3 separate regions of the Homo sapiens genome follow, and regions 1 and 2 are each linked to region 3. Evidence: fine-mapped expression QTL. A gene starts in region 3. Each other region holds a variant in brackets. All regions are shown on one strand. Distances are from middle to middle. Region 1 holds the start of LEFTY1 (left-right determination factor 1). Region 2 has its middle 25 kb from the start of LEFTY2. Region 3 holds the start of PYCR2 (pyrroline-5-carboxylate reductase 2).

Region 1 (5,221 bases), 35 kb before region 3:
ATCCGAGGCACAGCTGCACTTCTGCACCCTCATGTTGGGCAGGCTGACCACCTGGGGCCTGGTCCTGCCTCCCTCCTTGATGCTGACGATCATGGGCAGCGAGTCAGTCTCCGAGGCGATGCACTGTCGAGGCCCCAGAAACGGCCACTTGAAGGCCAGGGCCTCCGGGGGCTGCCGGCAGGTGCCCACACACTCATAAGCCAGGAAGCCCGGGGGCTCCAGCACCCAGTTCTCGGCCCACTTCATCCCCTGCAGGTCAATGTACATCTCCTGGCGGCAGCAGCGGGTGCCCTCGGTCATTGGTGCTTCAGGGTCACAGTCGCCCTGAGCTCTGTGTGGGCAAAGAGAGCAGGGTCAGCGGTCAGCTGGGAGGGCTGAGGTCAGAGGGCGTCTGGGATGGAGATTTATGATCCACCTCTCAACTTCAAAAAGCTGGATGTTTGTGATATAGGATGGACAGCTAGAAATAACTTGAAAATTAATAACCGATATTTACTGAGGATCTCCTAAGAGTCAGAGGAAGAATTGTATACATTGTCTCATTCATTCCCACAGCACTCTGAAAAGTTGTCCATTTCAAAATAAATGTAATTGCCTGTCTCTTTATTCCGGCTTACCAGTTTGACCCTCAGCACCTACCCATAGTCCCCAAGGTCCAGGGTGTGCAGCTCCAGCTGGGGCTCCCCAAGCCCGGCTGGCGCCCCCTGCGAGGCAAAGCGGACCAGCTTGTGGGCGCCGGACGCCAGCGGGCCCAGATGCTCCCTCTGCACCGACACCTGTAGCAGCAGCGGCTGCCGGGGCCGGCTCAGCTGCTGCCAGAAGTTCACGGCCTCGGTCACGTCGAAGGCCTTCCAGCCGCTCTCGTGGACGGACACCAGCCTGAGACATGACACAGAGACCCAGCGCCGCTTGAGGGCGGGGACTGGGACGGGCCCCGAGGACCCCGCACCGCCCCCCCGCGTCCCCGCCCCCAAGCCGGGCCTAGCAGCGCCCTCCCCCTACCCTGCGCGCCCCCGCGACCCCCACCTGGAGTCGATGAGGGAGGTGCGGTTGGAGCCGTCGTCGCGGACGCGCAGCCACTCGACGGTCACCCGGGCCCGGGCGCTGCGCGGGGACAGCCGCCCGTGCCTGTGCAGCGCGGCCTTGGGGACCGGCTCCTGGAAGAGCCGCAGCACGGCCTGCACCAGCTCGCTGTTGGGCGGCAGCCGCTGCTCCATGCCGAACACCAGCAGGTGTGTGCTGGCCTCCAACGCCAGGAACCTGCCGGCCACCTCTGGGGACAAGAGCAGGGTCAGCAGGGCCTCCCCCGACTCCAGGGGAGCTCTGAGGATGGCAGGGCCACTGAGCTGGCAGCCAGGCCAGGAGACACCGGCCCTGTTCTATTTCTGGGGCAAACCCAGTTTACAAATCTTCCTTGGATCTGGGCCTTGTTTAGTAACAATTTCCATCCAGCAGGCAGGGGCGCCTGTGGGACCCTGGCTAGCAAGTTTGCCTCAGCTGAGATGCTGGGAGCAGAATCCTCACCCAGGTGCCTGGCATTGGGTCTAGCTCTGGGCACTGAGGAGCTAGGGAGGCGAGAGGCTGCAGGAGGATTCAGGCCGGCTGCAGGAGGATTCAGGCCCGCTGCACCCCTGACAGCCAGGTATAACCCAGGTTGTCTACTCAAGTGCAGTATTTTTCAGTTACCCAAACACGCTTCTATTTACAATGACTCATTTTGATGTTCACAATGCTGGAAGATGGGCAAGACATAGTTATACCCCAGTTCCATGTGAGCAAATGGTTGTGAGATGATTTTAAAGCAATATGCTCCAAGTAGAACTCAGACCAGAGTGGCAGTACGAAAACAGACCCCCGGAGTCCTGACTGCATGCACCGCTGCATGCTGAGGCCCCGCCATCCTCACAGGCCCGGCCCCACCTCACTGCCCCTTAGACCGTGGCCCTCACTCAGCCTCCCACAGACCTCTGCAAGGCCAGGAGCCCTTTGACACCACCGGAGTGGGCACATCTGACCTGCCCCATGGGACCAGGGGCAGCAGGGAGGGAGGGCCTCACCTCGGAAGCTCTGGCTGAACCTCTTTCCGCGGGAGCGGTCCCCGTGGCTGCGCTGCAGCAGGGCCACGTACTGGGCCCTCACGTGGGTGGGGATGACCAGCTCCTCCATGTCGGCCCTGTCCAGGGTGGGCACCTCTTTGAGCTGCAGCTGCCGCAGCAGGCTGCCCAGGAGCTGCTCCCCGGTCAGGGCGGCCCCGGGGCTGGCCAGGGGCAACACCCAGAGTGCCCAGCAGAGCCACAGGGGCTGCATGGTGCTGCC[C/T]TGGAGGAGCAAGAGGCAGAGTGGGGCTGTCCCTTGAGAAGGCTGCAGGAGGGTCTCAGGCAGCTGGATGTGCTGAGAGCCAAGCCTGGGCAGCTTTATAGCCTGGGGTGGAGGGAGGAGGTAGGGAGTGGGGAGGGAAGGAGGGAGGGAGGTCACACCCCTGAGACCTCCTGGAAGCTCACAGCCAGACGAGTCCCTGAGCTGGGAGGAGGGGGCTGTCTAGATAGGGCAAGTCTGTCTGGGCTGTGAACAGCTGGCTACAGCTGTCTATACAATGGTCATGAACCCCTAATGTGGGTTGAGGCCTGACCAGTTAAATTAAAAAGCTCATTTCCTAGAGTAGAGGTGGGGCTCTCGTTCTCTGCAAGAGGCTCAGTTCCCCCAGCTGCTGGTAAGTGGACCTAGAGTCTTGTTCCTTGCTGCAACCAAACAACTGACAGGAACCAGAATGGCTCAGGCAACGCCAGGGCTCTAAGGGCCAATCCAGTCTGCAGGGATGAGCATCCGGGCCCGTGCTCAGAGGGTCCCGGGGCCTCATGAGATCCTGAGCTGGTGGTCCCCAGTTGTGAAACCAGATTTCCCACTGTTCTGGGGGGACCTTCCTAGGCAAGGGAGCCTAGGAGCATTTAGTTCCAACGGGGTTTTGTCCAATAAGGAAGGAGCCTCATCCTCTCCCTCATCCCTGCTGTTCACAGAATTAGAGTTTAGAGTTGAAAGGAATATCCAGGCTACCTTCTCCCCCAATTTTTTTTTCTTTTGAGACAGAGTTTCATTCTTGTTGCCCAGGCTGGAGTACAATGGCGCAGTCTCGGCTCACGGCAACCTCTCCCAATTTTTGAGCTGAAAAAAAACCGAGGCTCAGAGGTGTCAACTTCCCGAAGCTCACAAAGTTAATGATCAATGTCCATATAAAGTCAGGTCTTGCAATTCACAAAGTTCTTGGCACACTCAAATTATTTACAGCCTAGTTTTGATCTATGCCCTAAAGGGAGCCAGGTGGTCTCAATCCAGGTGATCAGGTCTAGGCTGGGGCAGGGGGACAATCCCCCAAGACAGAGGACCCCTATCCTGAATGTGGATTTGTAAGCTGGTTGAAGAGTTTTGCTGGGGAAATAAAACATTTGGGTGATCAGCCAGGGGTAGGGCTACCAGATAAAATACAAGGCACTATTTGGGACATAATTATACCAAAAAAATTATTCATTGTCTACCTGACATTCAAATTTCACCAGAGTCCTATATTTTTATTTGCTAGATCTGACAACGAAAAATAAAACAAATGTGGATTGGGAGACTGTTTACAATGGTCTGAAGTGTTGCCAGGAGGGAGGGCAGCCCCACCCTTTGTCATGCAGAAGACGGAGCCTGGCTTCCCCAACCATCCCCACCTGGGTCTGCCCAGATTGGGCTTGAGATGGTAAAGTGGCCCCAGAACCAGATCTTCTATCTAAGGGAGGAGAGCGGGGCAAGGGAATGAGTGATCCCTACCCTGACTCAGAGCACATTTGGACCTGGCCCTCGGCCCAGAGCTAAGGGCACTGGAGGGCAGTGGTCTGGCCATACTGGGGAGAGGGGGAGGGGGCCCAGGTAGGAGGGTGGATGAGGAGTGGGGCCCTTTGCCCTCGAACACCCTCCTGCCCCTGGTGGGCCAGGATGTGACCCCAACCAGAGGCCAGGTTGCCAAGTGAGAGCCATGGGAAAACATGGGGGTCAGAGGTCATCCTGGGGCCTCCATGGATGGGGATGAGCTGGACTCAGGCCTGGGCTCTGACGTCAGCAAAGCTAAGAGTCCAGGAGTGGAGTGGCTTCTAAGTCAGAGCCCAGCATCTAGGGTCTCCAGGGTGGCTTTTGCCCCCTTCCTGGGCAGGGGCAGATACTTCTGAGAGTGCTCAGGAAATGCCCCAAGGCCAGTCCAGGTGTCCTGGGCTGCCCCAACCCACACCATCAACCTCCCTGACCCCAGGCCTGGGGGCCCATGTGGCTCCTTGGTGGTTCCAGGCACCCCCTGTGTGGGCACTTCCTGTTCTCCCAAAGTAGCTCAGACTCTGGCATCATCAGGGGTCCTTCCCTGGGGCTCTGTCTGGGCTGAGGAGGGTGGGAAACAAACCAGGAATAGGGACCCGTTTCAGTTCATCCAGCACCTTTGTGTGGTGGGCACATCTTGCCAGACAGCAACAACTCAAGCATGGCCTGGGAAGGACCCTTTGTCCCTTGGTGATGTTTGTTCAGTGTTCCAGGCTATGGACCGTGGGAACGGCCAACCTGGATGTTTAATTATGTTTAACTATGAAGAATGTCAGGCCCCTGGCCTGTTACTTGGAACACAGGCTGTACAAGGAACAGAGGTCCATTGTTTTGAGGTAGGTGGAGGCTGCTAAGTAGAGGTTGCTAGATGGAAGTTGCAATGTGGTTTTGGGCTGGGCGTGGTGGCTCACGCCTATAATCCCAGCACTCTGGGAGGCCAAGGTGGGCGGATCACTTGAGGTCAGGAATTGGAGCCTAGCCTGGCCAACATGGCAAAACCTCGACTCTACTAAAAATACAAAAATTACCTGGGCTTGGTGGCAGACGCCTGTAGTCCCAGCTAGTCAGGAGGCTGAGACAGGAGATGCGCTTGAACCTGTGAGGCAGAGGTTGCAGTGAGCCGAGATTGCACCACTGCGCTCCAGCCTGGGCGACAGAGTGAGACCCTGTCTCAAAAAAAGCCAACCAAACAAACAAATGTTGCAATGTGAAGGTTTCTACATGACCTGCACACTTTTCACAAATGGCAGCGGTTGCTCCTGTCCAGCCTGCCGCTCCTGGACTTCCCCCTGTGCGTAAGTCCCTTGAATAAAGCTCATGTCTTGCCTGCTGTCTCTGGGTCTTTTCTTTGGTCTCTCCAAGGTGGTGCCCTCCCAGCTTG
Region 2 (5,221 bases), 42 kb after region 3:
CAGGAGGCAGAGGTTGCAGTGAGCTGAGATCGCACTACTGCAACAGAGCGAGACTCCATCTCAAAAAAAAAAAGAAAAAAAGTCAATAAGAAAAGGACAGTCAGACAATTCAATGAAAAAAATGGCAAAAAAAAAACCTCACAAAATGGGCAAAAGACTAGAATAGGCACATGGTAGAAGAGGATATCCACGTGGCCAATCAACAGGAAAAAATGCTTGGCTTCATTAGTCATCAGGGAAATGCAAGTTAATACGTGATGTGGCCGGGCACGGTGGCTCATGCCTCTATTCTCAGTGCTTTGGGAGGCTGAGGCGGGAGGATTGCTTGAGCCCTTCAAGACCAGCTTGGGCAACATAGTGAGATGAAATCTCTAATCACACACAAACTCACACACTCCCACTGTAATAAATATATATATATATATATATATAAAGCCGAGACCAAGATGGTTGTGAGACTTGGCGCCTTCCTCAAGAACTCCTGGGCCAAGGAGCCAGTGCTGGTGGTCTCCTTCGTCATCGGGAGCCTCACTGTAATTCTGCCCCCACTCAGCCCCTACACCAAGTATTCCATCATGATCAATGAGGCCACACCCTACAACTATCCAGTGCCCGTCCACGATGATGGGAACATGCGGACATGTGCAGCCACCCCCAGGGCCCCCAGGGCCCCAGCTTGGAGTGGCTGAAGAAAGTGTGAGCACCTCCACTGACAGAAGAGGCCCCTCGCATGGCTCCCAATAAAAATGTGAAAACCAACAACTTTATATATATATATATATATATATATATATATATATACACACACACATATATATGTGTATATATATATGTATATATATACACACATATATATGTGTATATATATATGTATATATATGTATATATATGCGTGTATATATGTATATATATGTATATATGTATATATGTATATATATGTATATATGTGTGTATATATATGTATATATATGTATATATATGTGTGTATATATATGTATATATATATGTGTATATATATGTATATCAAGTGTTGCTATTTCTCCCAATATCTCCTAAAGCTGAATATTTACACATCCTGTGACCAGCATAGGTATATAATCAACAGAAATATGTTCATGTGTGTGATGGTTAATATTAAGTGTCAACTTGATTGTGGCCGGGCGTGGTGGCTCACACCTGTAATCCCAGCACTTTGGGAGGAGGCTGAGGCTGGCAGATCACTTGAGGCCAAAAGTTCAAGACCAGCCTGGTCAACATGGCAAACCCCGTCTCTACTAAAAATACAAAAATTAGCCAGGCATGATGGCGCGCACCTGTAGTCCCAGCTACTCAGGAGACTGAGGCAGGAGAATTGCTTGAACCAGGGAGGCAAAGGTTGCAGTGAGCCAAGATTGCGCCACTGCACCCCAGCCTGGGCGACAGAGCATGACTCTGTCTCAAAAAAAAAAAAAGTGTCAACCTGATTGGATTGAAGGATGCAAAGTATTGTTTCTGGGTGTTTTTTTGTGACAGTGGTAGCAGAGGAGATTAACATTTGAGGCAGTGGACTGGGAGAGGCAGCATGGCTAGAAATAGCAGGCAGGAGATGGAAGGGCAGAGTTGCTGAGTCTTCAGGCCTTCATCTTTCTCCCGTGCTCGATGCTTCCTGCCCTGGAACATCAGACTCCAAGTTCTTTGGTTTTTGGACTCTTGGACTTACACTGGTGGTTTGCCAGGGGCTCTCGGGCCTTTGGCCACAGACTGAAGGCTGCACTGTCAGCTTCCCGACTTTTGAGGTTTTGAGACTCAGACTAAGCCACTACTGGCTTCCTTGCTCCTGAGCTTGCAGAGAGTCTATCGTTGGACTTTACCTTGTGATCTTGTGAGTCAATTCTCCTTAATAAACTTCCTTTCATATATACATACATCCTATTAGTTCTGTCCCTTTAGTTCTGTCCCTAATACAAGGTGTTGATCAAAAGCAAGTTCTAGAATGTTCAGGCTGACTCTGGGCACAGTGCCTATGGGTTAGTCCTCCTACAAAAGGAGCAGCACCAGTTCAGTAAAATTGCTACAGAGAGAGAGAGAGAGAGAGAGAGAGAGAGAGAGAGAGAGAGAATGTTCCATAGTGTAGGGAAAAGAAAGAGAGATCAGACTGTTACTGTGTCTATGTAGAAAGGAAAGACATAAGAGACTCCATTTTGAAAAAGACCTGTACTTTAAACAGTTGCTTTGCTGAGATGTTGTTAATTTGTAGCTTTGCCCCAGCCACTTTGACCCAACCTGGAGCTCACAAAAACATGTGTTGTACGAAATCAAAGTTTAAGGGATCTAGGGCTGTGCAGGACGTGCCTTGTTAACAACATGTTTACAAGCAGTATACTTGGTAAAAGTCATCGCCATTCTCTAGTCTCAATAAACCAGGGGCACAATGCACTGCGGAAAGCCGCAGGGACCTCTGCCCTGGAAAGCTGGGTATTGTCCAAGGTTTCTCCCCATGTGATAGTCTGAAATATGGCCTTGTGGGATGAGAAAGACCTTACCATCCCCCAGCCCGACACCCATAAAGGGTCTATGCTGAGGTGGATTAGTAAAAGAGGAAAGCCTCTTGCAGTTGAGATAGAGGAAGGCCACTGTCTCCTGCCTGCCCCTGGGAACTGAATGTCTCAGTATAAAACCCGACTGTACATTTGTTCAATTCTGAGATAGGAGAAAAACCGCCCTATGGTGGGAGGCAAGACATGTTTACAGCAATGCTGCCTTGTTATTCTTTACTCTGCTGAGATGTTTTGGTGGAGAGAAACATAAATCTGACTTACGTGCACGTCCAGTCATAGTACCTTCCCTTGAACTTCATTATGAC[A/G]TAGATTCTATTGCTCACATGTTTGTTGCTGACCTTCTCCTTATTATCACCCTGCTCTCCTACTACATTCCTTTTTACTAAAATAATAAAAATAATAATCAATAAAAACTGAGGGAACTCAGAGACTGGTGCCGGTGCAGGTCCTTGGTATGCTGAGTGCCAGTCCCCTGGGCCCACGGTTGTTTCTCTATACTTTGTCTCTGTGTCTTATTTCTTTTCTCAGTCTCTCATCCCACCTGACTAGAAATACCCACAGGTGTGGAGGGGAAGGCCACCCCTTCACATAGCAGCACCATTAATAATACCCCCAAACTGGGAATTATCCAAATATCCATCAATAGTAGAGTGGATGAATTGCTGCACACTAGAATACTATAAAGCAACGAACATGAATGAATGACCACTACTCATGAATGAATGAAACCGTATAGGGAATCCCACATACATCATACATGTAAAAGAAAACTTGCCTTCTCTCAGATTCCATTTATACAAGTCAGGATAATGGTACCCTTGGAAGGTAGTGACCAGAAGGGGTCTCCAGGGCTTTGGAGTTCTTATAATGTTCTGTTTCTTGATCTGGATGCTGGTTACAGAGTTCATTTGTAAAAAAAAAAATTCACGTTGTACATTCTGATTTATTCATTGTTCATACTGTTTGTATGTTATATTCAATAACACAATTTTTAAGACACCATTAAGGAAATGGAAAGCTGAGAGTAGGAGGAGACATTTGCAACACATAAAAATATCACTTAGGTCTTTGCCTTTACTCTAAATTAAGTAAGGGGCCAGGCGCGGTGGCTCATGTCTATAATCCCAGCACTTTGAGAGGCCAAGATGGACAGATCACCTGAGGCCAGGAGTTCAAGACCAGCCTGGCCAACAGAGTGAAACCCTGTCTCTACTAAAAATACAAAAAAAAAATAGCCAGGCATGGTGGCGCGCAACTGTAGTCACAGTTTCTTGGGAGGCTGAGCCATGAGAATTGCTTGAACCCTGGAGGCAGAGGTTGCAGTGAGCCAAGATCACACCACTGCACTCCAGCCTGGGCAACAGAGTTGAGACTCCGTCTCAAAAAAAAAAAAAAAAATTAAGGGCTTTTTTTTCTTATGATCTCTTCATCTTTCTCTATGAATTTTATGTGTTTCTACAGACATATATAATTTGAAAATAAATTACTCTTTTTGATTTATGGAATATGTTTCTCCCCATTACAAACTTCTAAATGGAGATGAGTGGAACTTTTGCTATTTCTCTGGAGAAAAATTTCAAATTATTTATGTTGCCCTTGTTTTCTTCCCCCTTTGGCTAAAAGATTTTGTAGTTTTATTTTTTAAGCTCTTCATTTCCCCCCCCACATTCTTCGTTTCCCTCTCTCCCTACATCTTCTTCTTTTTTTTTTTTTTTTTTTTTTCTGAGACAGTCTTGCTTTGTCGCCCAGGCTGGAGTGCAATGGTGCGATCTCGGCTCACTGCAACCTCCGCCTCCTGGGTTCAGTGATTCTCTTGCCTCAGCCTCTCCAGTAGCTGGGGTTACAGGCACTCGCCACCATGCCCAGCTAATTTTTGTATTTTTAGTAGAGACGGGGTTTCACCATGTTGGCCAGGCTGGTCTTGAACTCCTGACCTTAGATGATCCACCCACCTCGGCCTCCCAAAGTGCTGGGATTACAGGTGTGAGTCACCGTGACTGGCCTCTCCCCACACCTTCACAAAACTGCTGGCAACTCACGAGAGGATGCCTGCTGTCAGCATCACCCTCCTTGATGTGACGTAAGAAGAAACTGAGACCTTCAGTCCAGCTCCATGATCTGCAGGGTATAGTGCAAGGAAGAGGAAGAGAGGGGAAAACTAGGCTTCCTAGCCGTCGAACTCAGCCTTTTCCAAGGCCATACATCACCTTCTACTATTAGTATCATTTATTTATTTATTTTTGAGACGGGGTCTCACTCTGTTACCCAGGCTGGAGCGCAGTGACGCGATTATAGCTCACTGCGGCCTCAACCTCCCCAGGCTCAAGTGATCCTCCCACTCAGCCTCCTAAGTAGCTGGGACTACACACGCACCACCATGCCTGGCTAATTTTTTTTTTTTTTTTTTTTTTTTTTTTTTTAGTAGAGACAGGGTTTTGCCCTGCTGCCCAAGCTGGTCTCAAACACCTGGGCTCAAGGGATTCGCCTACCTTGGGCTTCCAAAATGCTGGGATTACAGGCATAAACCACCGTGCCTGGTTCTATTAGTACTTTTATAAACAGCATCTAGGACAAGTGAGCAAGTGACAACAAATCACGCCAGGTGGCACCCCCAGCCAGCCGGCCAGCGCCACATCCAAGCGCACCGAGGCATCCTTACTGAGCCCTGAACACAGCAGTGACCC
Region 3 (5,178 bases):
GGCGTGGATGGTGGCTCCCCCAGGGGAGCAGACATTGTCCTTAAGCTGGCATGGATGCTGCTCCGAGTCCAGCAGCATCTTGGCAGCTCCCTATGGGGAAGGGCACATTAGGAGAAAGTTGCTGGTGTGCGTTGGAACAGGCTTCCCATACCCACTGCTCCTGCCCAACTGCTACCCCAGCTTCCCAACCAACTCCCACCTCAGTTCAGTGATGCACAAGAACCCCCATTCTACACCCTGGTCCTGAACATGCGGGGGAAAGATACTGACCAGCAAAGCCTGGGCCCCGAGTTGGATTGCCAGGCGCCGTGGCAAACCCATCTTCACCCCACCATCAGCCAATGCGTCCAGAGCCATGAATGCCTGTGGAGACACTCACTAAGCCCCAGGCCATAGGCACTGAAGGGCCTTTCCTTAGGTCTGCTTTCTGATGACTAGAACTAGCTCCAAGGGTCAGCATCCTGTACCAGCCAGCTGTGCCCAAGAGGTGGGCGCCACCCCCAGTCCAAGCCTGCCTGCCAGCCCATCTTGCTGCCTGGGTTCCTAGAAGGCTGAGCGAGCAAATGAGGGCCTCACATAGGCAGGCCCGCTGCCACTGAGCCCCGTGACGGCATCGATGAGGTCCTCTTCCACCTCAGTGCAGAAGCCCACGCTGCTCATGAGCTGCTCCAGGAGCTGCCCATCCTCCACCAGGGCATGGGTGCCCGTGGCGTACACTGTAGCGCCTTCCTGCACTACCACAGGTGTGTTGGTCATGCAGCGAATCACTTTGGGGGCTGGCTGGAATGCCATCAGCTTCTAGGGTGAGGGAGAGAGCCGAATGAGTGGCCAGGGCACGGCTCCCACCAGCACCCACCCATTAGCTGCCATTCGTGGGTCAACCCTCCCCTCACACAAGGGGCATCAGGGCTGAGATGGGCACCTTCTCCACAGAGCTGATGGTGACACCAGCCGCACAGGAGACCACGATGTGTCTGGCTTGCACGTCGGCCCCAATCTCATCCAGGATGAAGGGGATGATATGTGGCTTCACAGCCAGAAACAGGACGTCGCTGTGCTTCACCGTCTCCTTGTTGCTGCGTGTCAGGTTCACACCCATCTTCTGCAAGAGGAGACTCCCAGCTCACAGTGCTGGAGCAGCCTGGCTATGCCAAGGCCTCCCAGGGAGCAGCTGAACCCCTGCCAAACCGATTCTGCCAGATGCAGCCTGGAATTCTTAGCTTTATGCCCTCAGGGTTCTACCCCTACCCCAAATAATACAGTTTCCCATTGTTGCTACTGGACAAGTAAGCACAGGCTTGGAGCATGACAAGCTTCTCCATGGTAACCAGGAAGTGGCTGCCCTTCTTCCCTGCCAATCTTCTGGTATCTAAGGCACTCCTCTGCCAGGTAAGAAGGCCCTATGGTGAAAGTGGCAGGGCAAAGGGAAATGCTAATACCTGGTCGTTAAAAGCACAGCTGAGTCAGGCCCTATCCTAACCCTGGCCGCTTGTTCGTGGGGACCGCACAGTCTCCATGTGGTCCAGGGCTAGGCTGGAAGCCATCCATCCCTCTATGACTCCAAACTGAGAAGCAGGACCCTCCAGTGCTAGGGACATCAGCCCACCCTAGGCACAGACACTGCCTGTCACCTGCCTCATCAGCCATCCTCTCCCACAGAGCACAGGTTTTGGGTGAAGACTTGGAATATGTTTTTGGAGAACAGAACAACTAACTCACCAGATTCTTCCCAATATGCTCATTCACGACTCAGAATAACAGCAAAGTGGCCACTGTTGTAAATGAGGAAATAGCCTCAAAGTGGCTGAGTACTTTAAGGTCATACAACTCGTCTATTAAGAAAAATGGCTGAGCGCAGTGGCTCACCCCTGTAATCCCAGCACTTTGGGAGGCCAAGGCGGGCAGATCACTTGAGGCCAGGAGTTCGAGACCAGCCTGGCCAACAGTATTCTCTACCAAAAATACAAAAATTAGCTGCGCGTGGTGGATGCCTGTAATTCCAGCTACTCGGGAGGCTGAGGTGGGAGGCTGAGGTGGGAGGCGGAGGTTACAGTGAGCTGAGATCGCGCCACTGCACTCCAGCTTGGGCGACAGAGTAAGACCCTGTCTGAAAAAAAATTTAAAAAATGAGTATTTATTAGGTACCTACTATGTGCCAGGTGCTTTCATCACATAATCACCTCAGTTAATCCTCTACCACTCCAGTGTCTGGATCTGACCCCCAGTTATGTCTCCCTGGGTGTTCCCACCACATTGAGCTGCCCAAGAGAAGGTGGAAAGATTGTCACGTTCCTGGAGTAAAGGTCACCGCCGGCCAAAGACCAGCACTTGGGCGCAGGGGCCGGCCAGACTCACTTCATCTCAGGTCATCCTTTTCCTGGGCCTCCACCCGCTTCCCACTCCGCCCGGCTCCACCTACCCTGAGCGCGGACACCGTGGGCAGGTTCATTTCTGGGGAGCTGGCTATTATCTTGTGAGCCGACAGGATGCCTGCAGAAGACAGAGCTTTTCAACTAGGGGTCGCGGCCCAGCCCGTTACCACGCTTTCCCTGGCTCTAAAACCCAGAGCCGTCCTAACAGTGCCAGTCTCCCTCTCCCCCTCAACCCTCTACGAGGACAGAAGACGCACTTGCTGCTCAACCAGAGTCTCATCTACCCCACCGGACGCAAACTCCCCTTTCATTCGCTCATGCTGGTGGGACGGAGGCCCCCTCGGGCCTCGGGACCGCCCGCGAAGCCGCCTCCCGCCTCCACGCGCTTGCCTGCGGCCGTGAAGCCCCGCGCCAGAGCATAGGCCAGCTGGCCGGCCCCGATGAAGCCCACGCTCATGGTCCGCGGTTCACGCCTCCTGGGAGCCGCACGAACCCCCTCAGCGAGGGACCGGAAGTAACGCTAGGGGAAGGGCGGACAGCGCAGGGGCGAACGGGCGGCGTGCCGAGGACCGGCGAGCTAACAGCAGCTTCTGGGATGGTGCAACCCTATTCTCCCCCGGCGGATATCTCCCGGGCGGCTGATGGCGCCTTAGGCCACGTGGCCCCGCCCCGTCCGGGCGACCAATCAGTGGCCAGGATCTCGGGGCAGGCCAATCCGCGGCCCGAGCCAGGCCGCGTGCCCGCCTCCTCCGCTCGCGACTGGAGGGCGGAACTCCGGGCTGGAGTCCCGGAAGCCCCTGTGGCAGCTTGGCGTGAGCTCCAGGCGCCCGCCGGCCCAGGACGCCCGGCCGCCCCCACCCCCCCCCCCCACCCCAAGGCTGAGGTCGCCGTCCCTAAGCCACCTCGGGCTCAGGGCTGAGGCCTGGCCCAGGCCTGGCTAATATTATTTCTGGCGCTGGCCATCAGATGCCCCTCAAGGCCCACAGGAATTCTCCAGGTTGCCGATTTGCGGGGATGAACGAGGCCCTCCTGGCGTAGGTTCAGACCAGGTGGCGGCGAGGTTCAGACCAGGTGGCGGCGAGGCGGCACCAGGGTGGTCAGCCGCGGCTTATTCACTTGAACTTGAGTGTTTCTCGCGAATTTGTCCAAACTAGATACAAGAAGGACAAGTTCGAGTCTCCGACTCTTCCGCGATCCCGCACCCCCCAGCCCCTTGCTGTCACTTGCCTTTTTTTTTTTGAGACGGAGTTTCACTCTTGTTGCCCAGGATGGAGTGCAGTGGCACGATCTCGGCTCACTGCAATCTCCGCCTCCCGGGTTCAAGCGATTCTCCTGCCTCAGCCTCCCCAGTAGCTGGGATTACAGGCGCCCGCTACCACGACCGGATAATTTTTGTATTTTTAGTAGAGACGGGGTTTCACCATGTTGTTCAGGCTGGTCTTCAACTCCTGACATCAGGTTATCCGCCCGCCTCGGCCTCCCAAAGTGCTGGGATTATAAGCGTGAGCCACCGCGCCCGACCTGTCTCTTGCTTTTAAAAGCTCCACCAATGTGATGTTTCCTTTTCTATCAGTAGTAAATATAAGGGGCCGCAGGGAACAAATGACAGAAGTAGAGAGGAAGAAGGTGGCGTTCCTAGAGGACTCAGAAGAGCTGAGGACCCTTAGTTCCCATGGTCTCTCTGCTAGCTTTTCTAGTCCTTTCCGTGTAATGCACACCCCCACTCCCAGGCAAGGGGCTGCTTTCTGTGAACTTCCCTGAGCAAGTCCCCAGGCCCTCAGTTTGTGCACCCTTTAAAGTGAGGACCAAATATAATATTTACTATTAAGCAAAATAATGCTATGTTTTATTTATTTATTTATTTATTTATTTATTGAGACAGAGTTTCGCTCTTGTTGCCCAGGCTGGAGTGCAATGGCACGATCTCGGCTCACTGCAACCTCCACCTCCCGGGTTCAAGCGATTCTCCTGCTTCAGCCTCCTGAGTAGCTGGGATTACAGGCATGCGCCACCACGCCCGGCTAATTTTTTGTATTTTTAGTAGAGACAGGGTTTCTCCATGTTGGTCAGGCTGATCTTGAACTCCCGACCTGAGGTGATCTGCCTGTCTCAGCCTCCCAAAGTGCTGGGATTACAGGCGTGAGCCACAGCACCTGGCCTCTGTATTTTTTAAATTCGAAAAGTAATACAGACATATTGAAGAAAGTTTGGAGATAAAAGTAAAAATAAAATCATCCACATCATACTTCCCAAAGATAGTTTCTTACAAACATTTTTGGTGTATTTCCTTACACTATCATGTCCTATGCATATCTACTTTCTCCATCATTGGAAATAAATGATGTACATGTAGTTTTGAAATTTCTCTAGTAGACATGAGCATTTTCCAATGTCACTGAAAAGTTATTTAAGACAGTTTTAATGACTACTTATTATATGTATGTACCTTACTGATTTAACCATTCAAAGGTCAATGTTAGGTTTATTGATTTATATAATAGATAACTTACTGAGCCAGGTTCTGGGAGTATAGCTATGAACAAAACAGACAAGTTCCTGTCCTCATAAAACATCAATTTATTATTATTTCTTATTTTTATTTATTTATTTATTTTTGAGACGGAGTCTTTGTTACCCAGGCTGGAGTGAAGTGGCATGATCTCGGCTCACTGCAACCTCCATCTCCCGGGTTCAAGCGATTCTCCTGTCTCAGCCTTCCGAGTACCTGGGATTACAGGCATGTGTCACCACGCCTGGCCAATTTTTGTATTTTTAGTAGAGATGGGGTTTCACCATGTTGGCCAGG

The links. PIP is the estimated chance that this variant, and not a neighbour inherited with it, causes the effect.
Region 1: its variant is fine-mapped to the expression of PYCR2 in vagina (GTEx, PIP above 0.99).
Region 2: its variant is fine-mapped to the expression of PYCR2 in adrenal gland (GTEx, PIP above 0.99). The same link has a PIP of 0.9 or more in ovary.

The regions. Positions count from the first base shown.
Region 1 is chr1:225,886,760-225,891,980 of GRCh38, forward strand. LEFTY1 (left-right determination factor 1) reads right to left here and starts at 2,387. Exons shown (of 4, transcript NM_020997.4): 1 at 2,058-2,387; 2 at 1,027-1,273; 3 at 640-879; 4 at 1-331. The coding sequence starts at 2,307. RefSeq lists enhancers at 386-1,102, 3,256-3,973, 3,974-4,691, 4,692-5,221 and a silencer at 4,430-4,724. The variant C/T (reference allele first, on the strand shown) is at 2,317.
Region 2 is chr1:225,963,735-225,968,955 of GRCh38, forward strand. It overlaps the pseudogene NDUFA3P3. Among named protein-coding and RNA genes, the nearest start is that of LEFTY2, 25 kb to the left of the region's middle. The variant A/G (reference allele first, on the strand shown) is at 2,843.
Region 3 is chr1:225,921,282-225,926,459 of GRCh38, forward strand. It overlaps PYCR2 (pyrroline-5-carboxylate reductase 2), which reads right to left and starts at 2,969. Exons shown (of 7, transcript NM_013328.4): 1 at 2,763-2,969; 2 at 2,420-2,490; 3 at 923-1,102; 4 at 577-798; 5 at 271-363; 6 at 1-90. The coding sequence starts at 2,829. MIR6741 (microRNA 6741) reads right to left here and starts at 861; the gene lies at 799-861. RefSeq lists silencers at 2,566-2,695, 3,006-3,095, 3,236-3,315 and an enhancer at 2,866-3,515.